Linked DNA regions of Homo sapiens: region 2 is linked to region 1. Evidence: fine-mapped expression QTL. Tissue or cell type: cerebral cortex. Region 1 holds a variant in brackets; the other region holds the start of a gene. All regions are shown on one strand. Distances are between the middles of the regions.

Region 1 (8,104 bases):
CATGCACTTGCCCCTGTCCAATAGGAGAATCACTTGCGTTCCTTCCCACAGTTCCATGGGGCTTGGGCCGGCAGACTGCATACCTGAGCTGTCATCTCAAGAGTGCTGTGTTATCTTAGGACGGTTGCTTACCTTCTCTGGGCCTTGGCTTCCCCATGCTCCTCCCACTCCCCATCTCCAAGCCCTAACTTATTTAAATGGAAAAGGATCCCAGGAATGTTGTGGCTGGCATCCAAGTAAAGTAAGAGGAATCCAGGTTGGAATCATTGAAGAACTTCCCAAACAGCAGTTGGTGTGTGACCCTGCAGGATTTGTCTTCAGTTATAGTTTAATTTCAGTGAGAGCTGGTGTGTGTGTGTGTGTGTGTGTGTGTGTGTGTGATGTCTTCAGTTATAGCTTAATTTCAGTGAGAGCTGGTGTGTGTGTGTGTGTGTGTGATATCTTCAGTTATAGTTTGGCTTCAATTTCAGTGAGAGCTGGTATGTGTGTGTGTGTGTGTGTGATGCCTTCAGTTATAGTTTAATTTTAGTGACAGCTGGTGTGTGTGTGTGTGTGTGTGTGTGATGTCTTCAGTTATAGTTTAATTTCAGTGAGAGCTGGTATGTGTGTGTGTGTGTGTGATGTCTTCAGTTATAGCTTAATTTCAGTGAGAGCTGGTGTGTGTGTGTGTGTGTGTTGTCTTCAGTATAGCTTAATTTCAGTGAGAGCTGGTGTGTGTGTGTGTGATGTCTTCAGTTATAGTTTAATTTCAGTGAGAGCTGGTGTGTGTGTGTGTGTGTGTGTGTGTGATGTCTTCAGTTATAGCTTAATCTCAGTGAGAGCTGGTGTGTGTGTGTGTGTGTGATGTCTTCAGTTATAGTTTAATTTCAGTGAGAGCTGGTGTGTGTGTGTGTGATGTCTTCAGTTATAGTTTAATTTCAGTGAGAGCTGGTGTGTGTGTGTGTGATGTCTTCAGTTATAGCTTAATCTCAGTGAGAGCTGGTGTGTGTGTGTGTGTGTGTGATATCTTCAGTTATAGTTTGGCTTCAATTTCAGTGAGAGCTGGTATGTGTGTGTGTGTGTGTGTGATGCCTTCAGTTATAGTTTAATTTTAGTGACAGCTGGTGTGTGTGTGTGTGTGTGTGTGTGATGTCTTCAGTTATAGTTTAATTTCAGTGAGAGCTGGTATGTGTGTGTGTGTGTGAGACAGAGAGAGAGAAAGAGAGAGAATCTTGGAAAGGTTCAAGGTACCTGACCTCCAAGGACCTGGCCAATTAGCCCATCCTCTCTGGTTCTGGTTCCACTTCTCTTCTCTTCCCTTCCAACAGGATGTATGCATGGAGGTCGTATCTATCCAGTCTTGGGAACGTACTGGGACAACTGTAACCGTTGGTGAGTGTTTGGAGCTTAGAGGGGTCTTGCTTTGTGAGCCTGTGGCTGACAGACTTGGTTCAAATCTTATCCCTGACCCCTTTTGCAAGGGAGAAGTCTTTTCCCTTCTTTGAACCTCAGTTTCCTCATCTGCAATAGAGGAATTTTAACACTGACCAAGTCAACTTATCTAACATCATTCCAACAACATTCCTCAAGCATGGCCAGCCATGGGTGCCTGGCCCAGGGGTCACCCTTGAACTGAGATCCTTCCCCACCCCTCCTGGCTTGGGCTGGGCTATTCCTCCCAGCTATTCCTGCTGTCACTGCAGAGTCAGAGGGAGAAGGGGGCGCCAGGAAGGAAAGCTCTGACTGCAGCATCCGCTGCCCTGAGCGGATGAGGGTCAGGGATGGCTGAGCGGGCGGCCAGCCAGCCTCTAGCAGGGCCTTCCCTGAAATGTGGCCCCTTTTTCCTTCCCCACCCCTCCCCACCATTCCCAGTAGGAGGAGGAAGGGGTCATGGGTACCCCCCTATTCAGTCTGAGATGGGAAGTGGAGAAGGGCCAGGTAGGAAACCCTGAAAGCCTTAATAGAAATAATGGGGAGCCTGCGACTTGGAGGAGGCGGCCCTGCACCCACTCCACCCCCACTCCCTCTTTGCCTGGGACTAAGAGGCCCCAGAGAGAAGGAAACTTTTTGGAATGCATTGCGCATAAGATATTTCCATTGCCTCACTAGGGTGAGGGGTGCCCGGGTCACAGTGAGGGAGGGAACGTTTCAGCATGTGTCTGGGTGTTCAGCGTGACTGTGTGTGCACTGTGTGTGTGTGTGTGTGTGTGTTCAAAAGGATAAAACATGCCTGGCCCGCGTCTGCAGGTTCTGATAGGATGGCTCTGGACGTTGAGGGGTTAATGCGCTCTCTCTCTCTCTCTCTCTCTCTCTCTCTCTCTCTCTCTCTCTCTCTCTGTCTCTCTCTCTCTGTCTCTCTCTGTCTCTCTCTCTCTGTCTCTCTCTCTCTCACTGCTGTCCCTGGCCCCTTAGGCCCCCTCTGGAATGCTGGGACCTGCTACCACCGGCCCTGCCTGGACCTGTGTGGGCAGCCCTGGGGGCAAAGGAGGAGATGGCAGGAAAGGACAGAACAGTCTACTGCCCTCTCCTCATGAAGGCTCTGGGGGCGAGGGTGGGGGAGTGTCCAGGGTGTCAGAGCCCTCAAAGGATGCTTCCAGAGTCTAGTCGGGTGCTGCTGCCTAGGTGTGCAGAGGGGGAACAGCCTGGTGTGCAGAGAGGGAAAGGAAGGATGAGGAAAGCCTTCCCGGCCCTGCAGACTCCTCTGGCCCTCCCCAGCAGTGCCCCCGCCTCTCCTGGGGCTGGAAAGCCCAGCCATACTGGGTCTTGGCTCCCCTTGAGGCTCCTTAAAAGGCAACATTGGAGGTGGGAGCCTTGGACAGCTTGCAAGGAGGCAGTTCAGCATCTTGTAATAACAGAGTTATGAGCTTGTAAAAGCATTATAGAATTCATAGAATGCAGCCCTTCAGTCGGCACCTATTATTAAAGACCTACTGCGTGACAGGCACTATGCTGAGCTCAGGAGATGGAGCGGGAATGCAACAGACACAGTCCTTGTCCCATTTCTAGTGTAAGGTGAAGGGCATGGGAAGACAACAAATGAGTATATTCTGACAAGCTGCCCAGTGTTATAGGGAAAAGAGAGGATAACGGGGGTCCCAGTTTAGAGTAGGGAGTGGGTGGGAAAGCTACTCTGAGGAAGGGACATTTATGCTGAGACCAGGGAGAAGGATAGGAGAGGCCTGGCCTAGGCAGAGGGAGTGGCTCGTGGGAAGGCCGGGAGGTGACTGAGCTCATTTTAGCTGGAGCTGGGGTAGGGGAGAGACGTCCCAAGGAGGTGCAGGCCACGTTCCGTGGCTCACATCAGCTGTGCCCAGGATTCTGCATTTTGTTTGGAGTCACAGGAAGCCACGTAGAGAGCACACGGTCTGATTTACGTTCTTCAAAGATCTCTCTGGCTTTGGGGTGGGTAGGGAGGGGATGGCCGGGAATTTTAAGGGGTAGCAGACTTGGTGAATAAGGCAGTGCCGGGGTCCAGGTGAGAGGTGATGAGGGACGGGAGTAGGGTGGCCACAGTGGAGGGGCGAGAGGTAGGTGGATTCCTCATGTGCCATCTCCAAGCCCTGCTGATGGGGGACATGTGGGCGGACACCACAGACCACCTGGAGCTCTGATGTGAACAACTGGGTGCCATTTTCAGAGTTGAAGATGTTAGGAAAGAGCAGGCTTGTGGGAGGCAGACGGGCTATTTTGAGTTTGAGATGCCTTTTGCACATCCAGAGATGTCAGAAGGTCAGTGGGATATGAGTCTGAAGCTCTAGAGAAGTGGGGTCTGGGATTCCTGTAACAGAATGGTGATAGTAGATATTAATTCTGAGCACTTAATGATGGACCAGGCCCAGTGCTAAATGCTTTACAAGCCTATCATTAAATCCCTGGAAAGTGGTACCACTGTATTATCCTCATTTTATAGACAAGGGCATTGAGAGAGACAGAGCTTGAATGATTCTCCTAAGATCACACAGCCAGTGGGCTGAAACCCAGAATCTGAATTCCAGAACCCATGCTCTTAGTCAATTCAGCATATGGCCTCAGTCATTGACTCAGTTAACAAATATTCATTGGGTGCTTACTATGTGCTAGGCTTTGTTTTCCTAGGCGCTGAAAATACCAAACAATACCTGCCCTCAAGGAATTTACAGCCTATGAGGAAACAGGGATAAGCAATATAAACAGGCCGGGCCTGTGGCTCACACCTGTAAATCTCAGCACTTTGGAAGGCCAAGGCGGGTGGATCACTTGAGGCCAGGAATTTGAGACCAGCCTGGGCAACATAGCAAAACCCCATCTCTACAAAAATTGCAAAATTTAGCTGGGTGTGGTGGTGCACTTGTAGTCTCAGCTATTTAGGAGGCTGAGGTGGGAGGGCCACTTGAGCCTGGGAAGCAGAGACTGCAGTGAGCCGAGATCACACCACTGCATTCCAGCCTGGGCAACAGAGCAAGACCCTGTCTCAAAAAAAAAAGCGGGGAGGAAGGGGAGCAGGCAGATTGGTGTGAACCATCAG[G/C]GGCCAGCCTAGTTGGAGCCTTAGAACCAGAACTTGAAGGAGGAGGGGATCAGGGGACAGGAGGACAGAGCGTGCAGGGCCTTGTTGTCACCAAACTTTGGCTCTTATTCTGTGATGTGAAGCCAGTGGAGGGTTTTGGGCAGAGGAACGACATGATATGACTTAGGTTTAGCAGGGTCACTCTGGCAGCTGTGTTAAAAATACCCTGGGAAGCAGGGCAAGGGGCAGATGCATGGAGCACCCACAGTGAGGAGGCCACAGCAGGAATCCAGGTGAGAGGTGATCGGACTTGGGCGGGCTGCAGGAGAGAATGAGAGTGGTTCGGATTCTGGATGCATTTTTAAGGTAGACCCATAGGATATGCGGATGAACTGGATCAGCATGGGAAAGGAAGTCAGCGGGGACTGCCAGGTTTGGGGCCCAAACTCCAGGAAGGATAGAGTTGCCGTTTTCTGAGAACTGTAGGGGGAATAAGTGAGGGGGGTCAGGAATTCGGTTCAGGGAGTGTTTTGGTTCAGGGTAGTGATGTTGAGTAGCCGTGAGATCCTTGACTCTGGTGTTCAGGCAGAGATCTGGGCCACAGATATAAACTTGAGAATCATGAACTAGACGTTGACATTTAAAGCCACCAGGCTGGATGGGATCACCTAGAGATTCTCCCACAGTCACTTGCACAGACTCCCTGGCCCATGTTAACCTCCGAGGCCACATTCCTTCAAAGTATCCCCAGTCCCCCACTTACCCTTTCCTTCTCTCCTTTTCTCACCAGCACCTGCCAGGAGAACAGGCAGTGGCAGTGTGACCAAGAACCATGCCTGGTGGATCCAGACATGATCAAAGCCATCAACCAGGGCAACTATGGGTGAGAGGCCCTAGAGGCACCCTCAGTGGGCACACATGCATACTCATGCATGTATACACGCATGCTGTGCTGTGGGGCACGTCCAGCAGGCCACTCCTACACCCAGATTTGACTGTGTGTGCGCTCAGCCACTGTGCGTCTCTCCCACCCACATGCACCCACGCCAAGGACCCTGAGCCTCGGCAGATCTGTGACTTCCTTCCGTCCCCTCTCCTTCAGCTGGCAGGCTGGGAACCACAGCGCCTTCTGGGGCATGACCCTGGATGAGGGCATTCGCTACCGCCTGGGCACCATCCGCCCATCTTCCTCGGTCATGAACATGCATGAAATTTATGTAAGTCCATCCTTCCCCACAATGCTGCCATCTCCCCATGGCTCAGAACCTCAGGGATGCTGGCCCTGTGCCCTGCTCCTCCAAGGGCCTGGACCATCCCCTACTACAAGGCTGTGTGTCCCTGGACAAGTTACTCCCCTTCTCTGGGCCTCTGTTCCCTGCTTCCACAGGATGTGCTGTGCTGGAAGAACTGATGCTCAGATTGAATTTCGTGGTCTTGGCATCAGCTCCCCCCTGATCTCTCCAGCCTGGGAAAAATGCTGTTGGTCTCAGTACAGCTGGGTTAGGGCCCAAGGGGACAGGGGGTCACCTTGGTATTTTGGGAAGGGAAGGACACACACTCCTCCAGTTCTGGCCAGAGGGCAGCAGTTCTCGGAAATAAATGCCGGTTCAGCGGAACCCCAAGGGAGGAGAGGGCTTCTCCCTTCCCACCAGTGGGACCCTCTGGGAGAGGAATGAAAACCAGGCCCAAAGTGAAAGGGTGAGGAAGGGGAGCTTCAGCAGGCCTGGACCGGGACATGTGCCGGAGCATTTGTCCATCAGTGGCAGGCAGCGGGGAGGCAGGGGCTGGCAGGAGTGGCCCTCCCTGCGGAGACTTCGGCCTTGGGTGACCAGACCCTGGCCCTGCCCTTATTCCCCTGGGCCTCTGGCTATTTTCTGCCTCTTGCTGTTTGTGTTGGCAGACTGCCTGGTCACGGGACCCTACTGCCTCTTCCCTCCCCTGAGGGAAAGCTAAGGCCTGAAGAAAGCTAAGGCCGATCAGAAGGTGCAGAGGAAAGAGGCAGGGGTTGAGAATGGAAAGCTGAGGGACCTGGCCTGGCCACTTCTCTGTGCCTGGCCTCAGCTGCCTCATCTGGGAAGCAGGACTAGTCACCACCGCCACCCCGCCCCGCCCCACCACCTGATACCTGGGAGGCACTAAATGGTGCTTGGTTCTTCAACACAAGTCAAAATTGGAGGCAGCTGGAATCCTGCAGCAGCAGGAGGGCTCAAGATTAAACTGCAGAAGGCCCTGGACTTGGTGGCCCTCCAGTGCCAATGGGCACCTGAGGGGCAGGCCAGGGCAGAGCAGGAGGCAGACAGGGCAACCTTTATCTTGCAGACAGTGCTGAACCCAGGGGAGGTGCTTCCCACAGCCTTCGAGGCCTCTGAGAAGTGGCCCAACCTGATTCATGAGCCTCTTGACCAAGGCAACTGTGCAGGCTCCTGGGCCTTCTCCACAGCAGGTAAGCCAAGGGCAAGGGCTGGCGCCTGGGAGAGGAGGGCCAAGTCCTGAGCCTCCCGACAGCCCCTCTATCTCACCCCACCAGCTGTGGCATCCGATCGTGTCTCAATCCATTCTCTGGGACACATGACGCCTGTCCTGTCGCCCCAGAACCTGCTGTCTTGTGACACCCACCAGCAGCAGGGCTGCCGCGGTGGGCGTCTCGATGGTGCCTGGTGGTTCCTGCGTCGCCGAGGGTATGCAGCAACAGGGGATGTGGGCAGAGAAGAGGGCAAGGAGCTCCGTGGGCATGGCCTGGGCCATGATGCACTGAGTCTTTCTGCCTTTGCTCCCTCTTGCTGCCTTTGCAGGGTGGTGTCTGACCACTGCTACCCCTTCTCGGGCCGTGAACGAGACGAGGCTGGCCCTGCGCCCCCCTGTATGATGCACAGCCGAGCCATGGGTCGGGGCAAGCGCCAGGCCACTGCCCACTGCCCCAACAGCTATGTTAATAACAATGACATCTACCAGGTCACTCCTGTCTACCGCCTCGGCTCCAACGTAAGTCAGCACTTGGGTGAGGGCGCCGAGGCAGGAGGGTTGTGAAAGCCTGGAGTCTCACCCCTGACGTATGCTCTCTGTCCATCCCCTGCCCTCCAGGACAAGGAGATCATGAAGGAGCTGATGGAGAATGGCCCTGTCCAAGGTAAACCCCCTTATCCAGCACCCTGGTTCCAGAAGCTTGTGCCTGCTTGAGAGTGGGCACAGTAGCACAAGTGGCCTGCACAGCATTCAGCAGCATGTCCAGTAGGGCCAGGAGTAGGGGTCCCCCCCTCCCACAGGCAGCACCTGGAGGGAGCACTTAGAGCTTTGGTATGGAGGGACCCTGGTGCCTGGGCACATCTCAATAGACTCAGGCTCCAGTGCCTGTGCCAACGGGCTGAGTGGACCCTACCTTGACATCTGCCCACAGCCCTCATGGAGGTGCATGAGGACTTCTTCCTATACAAGGGAGGCATCTACAGCCACACGCCAGTGAGCCTTGGGAGGCCAGAGAGATACCGCCGGCATGGGACCCACTCAGTCAAGATCACAGGGTGAGGGGCGTGTGGGCAGAGGGGGTTTGGGACAGCAGGGTTTGTGCTAGGGGCTCTGGAGCCTGCCTTGGGTTCTTACAACCTCTCTAAAAAGCCAGGACTGCTCTCATCATTTCAATAGGGA
Region 2 (8,104 bases), 340 kb before region 1:
GGATGAAAGCAGTAAAAGAGCTAACGTTTATTGATCATTTAACATGCACCAGGCACTTTGCCAAGCACTTTACATATGTATGCTCATTTGGTTAAATGAGGTAATGCATATAAAGTGCTTAGCACAGGACTCCTGAAATGGGAATGATAATGATGATGATGAAGAAATTGATGGGGATTCCCTAGGGCAAATCTCACTGGTTCATCCCCTTCCAGGAAGAACAGAGTGGCCTGTAAGGTTTCAGGAAGGAGGTGAACAAGGAAGAGCTGGGTTTGGAAAGGAGAGAGAAAAGGCACGGGATTAAAAATTAGAGGGTGAATATGTTAATAATGTTGTCAAAATGATACACCAAAAAGAATTCTGGAAAGCAAGGGACCCAAGATGTTCTACAGAAAGGAACCGGATCAAGATGCAACAAAACTGCCATGCCAAAGCCAGGTGTGGTGACATGCACCTGTTGTCCCAGCTATTTGAGAGGCCGAGGTAGGAGGATCACTTGAGCTCAGGGATTTGAGGCTGCAGCTATTTGAGAGGCTGAGGTGGGAAGGTCACTTGAGCTCAGGAATTTGAGGCTGCAGTGGGTTATGATTGCCACTGCACTCCAGCCTGGGCAACACAGTGAGACGCCTATCTCTAAAAAATAAACAATAAATAAACAAAACATGCCAGTCCAGGCACCACCCTGAGTTCCTGACAAGTACAGCTGGCAGGATCCCAGCGAGCCAGACCAATAATGCCTCCCATTTTACAGATGGAAAAACCAAAGCCTAGAGTGTGGAAGAGACTTGCCCCAAATTGCAGGATGTCAGAAGCAGAGCCAGGCTTAAATCCAGGTCTTTTGCCTCTCAGCTCAGTGCCCAACTACCTGCTACTTCCCACAAAGGACAGTCCACAAAGGACAGTGCAGGGGGTCACCTGGATATGTTTGGGCTACAGTGCCACAGACACATCCCATGATATGAATCATTAAGATAATAACAATAAGCTACAGTTTAATGAGTACTCACTCTGTACCTGCCAGAGTGCTAAATTCATTATATGGACTGAGTCCTCACAACAACCCTAAGGATTAGGAACTGTTTTATATTCTCTCTATTTAACAGATGACAAAACTATGTGGCTCAGAGACGGTAAGCAACTTGCCCAAAATTGCATAGCCAGGAAGTGACAGAACCAGGTCTAAAAGCCAGGTCTGTCCTGTCAAACTTCAGAGCCTTAACTACTATCCTACACTTATCCATCTGAAAGGCACAGTCCCTACCTGCTTCCCTTAAACCCCATGGCACCCTCACACCTCACTCCCTCACCCAAATCACATCTATCCCAACTGAGGAAGAATGTTTCGAATTGGCCTGATTCATTGTAACGATTAAACTCCATTTGAGAAAGAAAAATGACACAGTTCCTCCTAAGTTTTCAGCTGAAAGATATTTAACAGCCTCTTTTTTCCCTTCAGTCCCTTGGATGAGAAAACCAAGACTCCCTTCTCCCCTCAGGCTGGTGAATTCCAACATCCCGGGGCACATTATGGAAGCTATCAGGCAGTAGGGGCTCATGGAGGTTAGTGACAACTGGAGGGCCCACTCTGCAATGAGCCCAGATAGTGCAACAGAGCCAAGAGAGCAATTTTCAAGTTCCTCCCGCAAATGATCTTGTGCAACCTTCACAAGCTGCCCAAAGCCACCCAGCCGGGATGTGGGAGAAACCAGAATGCCACCCAGGTCTCATCTAACTCAAGCCTCTAGTGCTGGTGAGCTCCTCTAAGTGGAAGAGTGGGGTTAGCTTAGCAAGGGAGAACTATGGAGGAAGGGAAGTGGGAGGCAGAGAGACACTCTACCACCTTCATTTCTCTCTAGAGCCATGAGCTCCTTCCATGGGGCCCCAGACTTACCAGGGCCAGAACTACTTATTTTATAATTAAGAAGGCAACAGAGGACCTGGCCAACTGCCTGGATTCAAAGCCTGGATCCTGGCTGGATGTGGTGGCTCATGCCTATAATCCCAGCACTTGGGAGGCTGAAGTGGGAGGATGGCTTGACCACAGGAGTTTGAGACCAGCCTGGGCAACAAGAGTGAGACCCACCTCTAAAACACAAAAAAATTAGCTAGGCATGGTGGTGTGCCCCCGTAGTCCCAGGTACTCAGGAGGCTGAGGTGGGAGGATTGTTTGAGCCTGGGAGGTCAAGGCTGTAGTGAGCTATGATTGCACCACTGCACTCTGTCCTGGATGACAGAGTGAGCCCATGTCTCAAACAAAAACAAAAACAAAACCCCCAAAACAAAGCCTGGGTCCTAGTTCCTGTAGAATTCTGGACAAGTTACTTCATAGGGCTGTTAGGATTAAATGAGTTAATACCTGGAAAAGTGCTTCCAAGAGTACCTGACACTTAGTCAAGGGCTCTCCAAAGCTAACCGTTATTATCGCCAACAGAGAATGAGCATGGGACAAACTGCTAACAGGTTCACCTTTGGGGAGGGGTCTAGTTATAGAGAGAAGAAAACTTTTTTTTTTTTTTTGAGACACAGTTTCACTCTGTCGTCCAGGCTGGAGTGCAGCGGCGTGATCTCATCTCACTGTAACCTCCGCCTCCTGGGTTCAAGTGATTCTCATGTCTCAGCCTCTCGAGTAGCTGGGATTACAGATGCGTGCCACCACCCCTAATTTTTGTATTTTCAGCAGTGATGGGGTTTCTTCATGTTGGCCAGGCTGGTCTCGAACCCCTGACCTCAGGTGATCTGCCCATCTCGCCCTCCCAAAGTGCTGGGGTTACAGGCATAAGCCACGATGCCTGGCCTAGAAAACTTACTTTTTATTTATCTGTCCTGTTTGATTATGTATGTATTTATTTTTTACAATATATGTATATTACTTTTCTAATTAAAAAAAACCCCTAGTTTAAAATTAAAAAATTAACAAACACAGAAGAATCCTCTGAAAGGTTTAAACATTTCTTGGCATTTCATGTTCCTCAAAGTAGATAAAGAAAAACAGACAATCTCTGCCCTTCTGGAGTTCCCATTCCACCTGATCTTAATTAATTCCCTCTGCAATCCTCAGGGATAATCATTTTACAGATAAGAAGACTGAGGCCGGCCAGTGGGGGGAAGTCACTTGTCCAGTCTCCCACAGCTGGGAGCAGGGCTACAATCTCCAGAGCTAGGGCTGTTTCCACCACTGCCCAGGCCAGGTCTGTGGATGGCATGTTTGAAGCTGGTGTCCCCAGGAGGAGAGAAGCAAGACGAATGAGGAGGTCTGCATGTCCAGGCTCAAAACTTCACTCTACATTATCATTGGCTCCTGTGGTGGGGAGGGCGTGATGGATGCAGGCAAGAGTGGAAACCCAGAACAAGGAGTCCAGCATGAGGGGGGCTCAGGCTCCTCGCTGCCCACTCTCAGACCTGGGTTCGGCGATGGAGGTCCCCATGCACCTCTGCCTAGAGGAGAAGCACAGCTTCAACCTCCCTAGTTGTTCAATCTCAGCTCTAGGGTAGGTAGGAGACCCCTGCCTCTCCTTAACCACCCTCCCAAATTCCCCTGCCAGGGCCTGATTTGAAGGGCAGTGCTGTTTCTTCTAGTCCACTACAGTCACTCCTCCCTGAGACAAGAACCTGAGTTCCCTATGCTGGGGCTAGGCACAGTGTCCTCAGATGCTCTGGTCCTCCCTAGGGCACCCAAGTGTCCCCATCCCCACTGTTGCTGGCCCCGGCAGAGGAGCTGCTCTGGTGGGTGGAACTGATGACTGATGGAACCCCCATGGCCACAGCGGCCAGACCAAAGCAGGAAGTGTGGTCCAGGCTGGGTCAGGCTGGCCCAGGATCTGGCAGCTCCTGGTGACCCTCTCCAGGGAGGTGGCTCTCCTTTCCCAGGACTGCCCGGTCAGGAAGGTGAAGGGAGGCAGAAACAACACAAAGGATTGGAGGGTTCTTGGAGTCTAAGATCCCAGAACACAGATGAACATGGGCCAGAAATGGTCAGCGATTTAGAGACACACCAAAGAGAAACCCTGAGAGACACACGCCGGAGCAGAGACTTTGTGAGAAACGCTCACACAGGGGTGGTGATCAGAGGCAGAGACCCAGAGGAAGGGAGAGACCCATGCAAACGAGGGATCTAGAGGGAAACACACAGCAGGACCTCAACGGATCCACAGATCAGCCTCAGACACACCCCCAGTCCCAGCAAGCCACCGTCCCACAGCGCATCCCCCAACAGGAGGCCACTTGTACAGTGCGGGCGGGCCGGGGACTCGCGCACAGGACGCACTTGGGGACCGGAGGAGCGCCGGGCACAGCAGCGAGAAGCGCACACAAAGAGACAGCCCGGCCAGCGGGAGCAGGCTCCGCCCGACCGCTCCGAGACTCCAGACCACCCCCCGCCCGGGCACACGCACCAGACACACACACAGAGACACACGCAACCCCACCCGCACGCCCTGGGACCGCGCCCCGCCGCGCCCCACCCTGCCCCGACTGCCTGGGCACGCGACGCTTACCAGCTGCAGGCAGCAGAAGGCGACCAGCGTGCAGCGCCCGCTGCACTTGCCCATGGCTCCGGGGGCTGCGCGGGCCGCACGCCGCGGCGCCCTTCTTGCTCCGCGGCCGCCGCCTGCTCGCGCCGCGCGGGCTCCACGTCCTCCCCGCTGGGCGCGCCGGGCGGCGGGGCCGGGCGCCTAGGGCCGGGCCCGGGAGTGTCCGGTCCCCAAGGCTGGGGCCGGCCGCCCGCGCTCCGAGTCCATGGTCCGTCCGTCCGCGCGCTGGCCCCGCCGAGCCGCGCCTCCTTTGTCTAGCGGGCCGTCCGTCAGGCGCGCCTCCTGCCCCGGGGCGGCTGGCGGGGAGCGCGGAGCAAGGAGAGCGAGCCCCGAGCGCGGCGCAGCGCAGAGCAGCACTGCCCAGCTGGGGCAGTCGCCCGGGCTCTCGTCGGCCGCGGCTTCCCGGCCCCACCACGTGGCTCCGCCGCCGCCACCGACAGGGAGGGAGTTGGGGGGAACGGCAGAGGGGTGGGGCGGGGGAGCCGCCGGAGGGGAGGGGAGAGGGATAGGGAGGTGGAGGGTTGGAGAGGCAGGGAGTGAAGTGGAAGAGTGCGTGCGGGCTTAGGGGACAACAGCCCTGAGTCAAATCCAGACTTTGCTGCTCACTCGCTGTGTGACCTTGGGCAAATCACGTCACCTCTCTGGACCTGTTTTCTCATGAACAAAGTAGGAATAATTATGCCTCTTTAGTGTAGATATGAAGATGAAATGCAGTCATGTGAATAAAGCGCTTAGCCCTGTGCCTGGCCTCCTGGCTTGGAACACTTTTTTGTCCACCCTGTCTCTAGGGCTCCAGGGTTCCAACTTGGACTTCTAGTTCTATTTACGTTCCCAGATCTGCTCCTCACCCCAGCCTCTCCCCTGAGTGTCTGGCCACATTTTTCGCCTTCCTTCTTTCCGTCTACTGGCATTTATTGAGCCCTGACTGCATACACACCCCTGGGGGCCCTGCGAGCCAGAGATGAGACCTGCAACACTGTTCCAAATCCCGTAGAGCTGCACCGCCCAGGGAACAGATAGGCTCCCAAGAGCACGCCAGTGAGATGGGTGATGGCAGAGATCTGCCCAGGTGGAGGTAGGGAGCCCCTACCCTGGGCTGCAGTAGGGACAGAGTCAGAAGTTTCCCAGCAGAAGATTGCCTTCTCCAAGCCACCCCCAAAAGCCCTCGAACTGGACACATCTCAAATCCACATAATCATTCCTGTCCCACTCCTAACTTCCTATATTCACCTTGGCAATTAGCATCACCCAAGTGGAATTTCCTAGGTCATCCTCCAGGCTTCCCTACAATTACATCTGATCTGTCACTACATTCTATAAACTGTACTTTCCAACTAACATTTATGAAATACCCACTATGTGCCAGGTTCTCTGCTGGGGATAAGGGAACAAAACCCGACAAAATCTCTGCCCTCATTGAGCACACAGTCTAGTGAGGGATTGTCATTAAAACAAGGAAATATACAAATAAATACGCAAAGTTCTGATGAATACTCTAAAGAATATTAAAGAAGAAACGTGGCACGGTGGCTCACACCTGTAATTTCAGCACTTTGGGAGGCTGAATCAGCTCACTGCAACCTCCACCTGAGTGGAGATCGGCCTCCCAAAAGTGAGTGGATCACCTGAGTTCAGGAGTTCGAGACCAGCCTGGCCAACGTGGTGAAACCCCATCTCTACTAAAAATACAAAAATTAGGCAGGGATGGTATCAGGCACCTGTAATCCCAGCTACTCAGGAGGTTGAGGCAGGAGAATCGCTTGAACCCGGGAGGTGGAGGTTGCAGTGAGCCAAGACCATGCTATTGCACTTTAGCCTAGGCGACAAAAGCGAAACTCTGTCAAAATAAATAAATAATAAATAAAATACTAAGGGAGAAAAGAGAGAATGAGAGGGGCATAATTTAGGTTTGGGGACCAGGAAACACCTCTTTGAGGAAACGAAACTGATACTGAGACGACAATAGGAAGGAAGGAGAGGCAGGGGAGTGAAGAGTGTTCTGGTGGAAGAAACAGAAGGTTCTTATTCTTTCCCTTCCTCTCCACTCTCACTAGCCCTCTTGATTCGAGAGACAGGAAGTATGGTAAGATGTAGGTTAGGACCCGTGGTTTTGGACCCAAACGGCCTGGGTCCCGGTTCCAGCACTGTCACTTGTTTGCTGCTCACATAGTAAGCATGCAAATAAATGTGTCACTGTTTTCTTCCAGGACTGGCTACATAGTTTGGGGGGCCCAGCACAAAATGAAGATGCAGCACTTCTTGTTAAAAAATTAAGAATTTCGGCCAGACGCAGTGGCTCATGCCTATAATCCCAGCACTTGGGAGGCCTGGCCAGATGACAAGGTCAGGCGTTCGAGACCAGCCTGACCAACATGGAAAAACCCTGTCTCTACTAAAAATACAAAAAATAATTAGATAGGTGTGGTGGCACATGCCTGTAATTCGCAGCTACTCAGGAGGCTGAAGTGGGAGAATTGCTTGAACCCAGGAGGCAGAGGTTGTGGTGAGCTGAGATCACCCCACTGCACTCCAGCCTGGGGCAACAAGAGCAAAACTCCATCTAAAAAAAAAAAAAAAATTAAGAATTTCAAGATGGCAACACAGCAGAGCGTGAAGTCAAGAACATGCAGGGGGCCGGGCGCTGTGGCTTACGCTATAATCCCAGGACTCTGGGAGGCCAAGGCAGGCGGATCACTTAAGGTCAGGAGTTCAAGATCAACCTAGCCAACATGGCAAAACCCCATCTCTACTAAAAATACAATAATTAGGCCAGGCGTGGTGGCTTATACCTGTAATCCCAGCACTTTGGGAGGCCAAGGCGGGCAGATAATCAGGAGATCGAGACCATCCTGTCCAACATGGTGAAACCCCATCTCTACTAAAATACAAAAAATTATCCAGGCGTGGTGGTGCATGCCTGTAATCCCAGCTACTAGGGAGGTTGGGGCAGGGGAATCGCTTGAACCCAGGAGACGGAGATTGCAGTGATCCAAGGTCACGCCACTGTACTCCAGCCTAGTGACAGAGTGAGACTCCATCTCAAAAAATAAAAATTAAAAAAATACAAAAATTAGCTGGGCGTGGTGGCATGTGCCTGCAATCCCAGCTACTTGGGAGGTTGAGGCATGAGAATTGCTTGAACCCAGGAGATGGAGGTTGCAGTGAGCTGAGATTGTGCCACTGCACTCCAGCCTGGGTGACAGAGTGAAACGGTGTCTCAAAAAAACAAAGAACAGAAAACAAAACATGCAGGGTCCTGTGTGACTGCAGAGGTCACATGCCCATGAAGCCAATTGTGTCTTCTCCCTGGACTTTAAGGTGGGTCTCTTTGGCCGGGCGTGGTGGCTCACACCTGTAATCCCTGCACTTTGGGAGGCTGAGTCGGGTGTATCACCTGAGATCGGAGTTTGAGACCAGGCTGGCCAACATGATGAAACCCTGTCTCTACTAAAAATACAAAAAATTAGCTTGATGTGGTGGCAGGCGCCTGTAGTCCCAGCTACTCAGGAGGCTGAGGCAGGAGAAATCACTTGAACACGGGAGGCGGAGGTTGCACTGAGCCAAGATCGTGCCAC

What was found. PIP is the estimated chance that this variant, and not a neighbour inherited with it, causes the effect.
Region 2: it holds the start of NKAIN1, and the variant in region 1 is fine-mapped to the expression of NKAIN1 in cerebral cortex (GTEx, PIP 0.96).

The regions. Positions count from the first base shown.
Region 1 is chr1:31,577,897-31,586,000 of GRCh38, forward strand. TINAGL1 (tubulointerstitial nephritis antigen like 1) reads left to right here. Exons shown (of 12, transcript NM_022164.3): 3 at 1,308-1,371; 4 at 5,253-5,345; 5 at 5,565-5,679; 6 at 6,782-6,905; 7 at 6,990-7,140; 8 at 7,255-7,444; 9 at 7,544-7,589; 10 at 7,857-7,980. It overlaps LOC105378626 (a long non-coding RNA gene), which reads right to left and starts at 1. Exons shown (of 6, transcript NR_188671.1): 1 at 1. The variant G/C (reference allele first, on the strand shown) is at 4,484.
Region 2 is chr1:31,235,001-31,243,104 of GRCh38, forward strand. NKAIN1 (sodium/potassium transporting ATPase interacting 1) reads right to left here and starts at 4,887. Exons shown (of 7, transcript NM_024522.3): 1 at 4,494-4,887. The coding sequence starts at 4,547.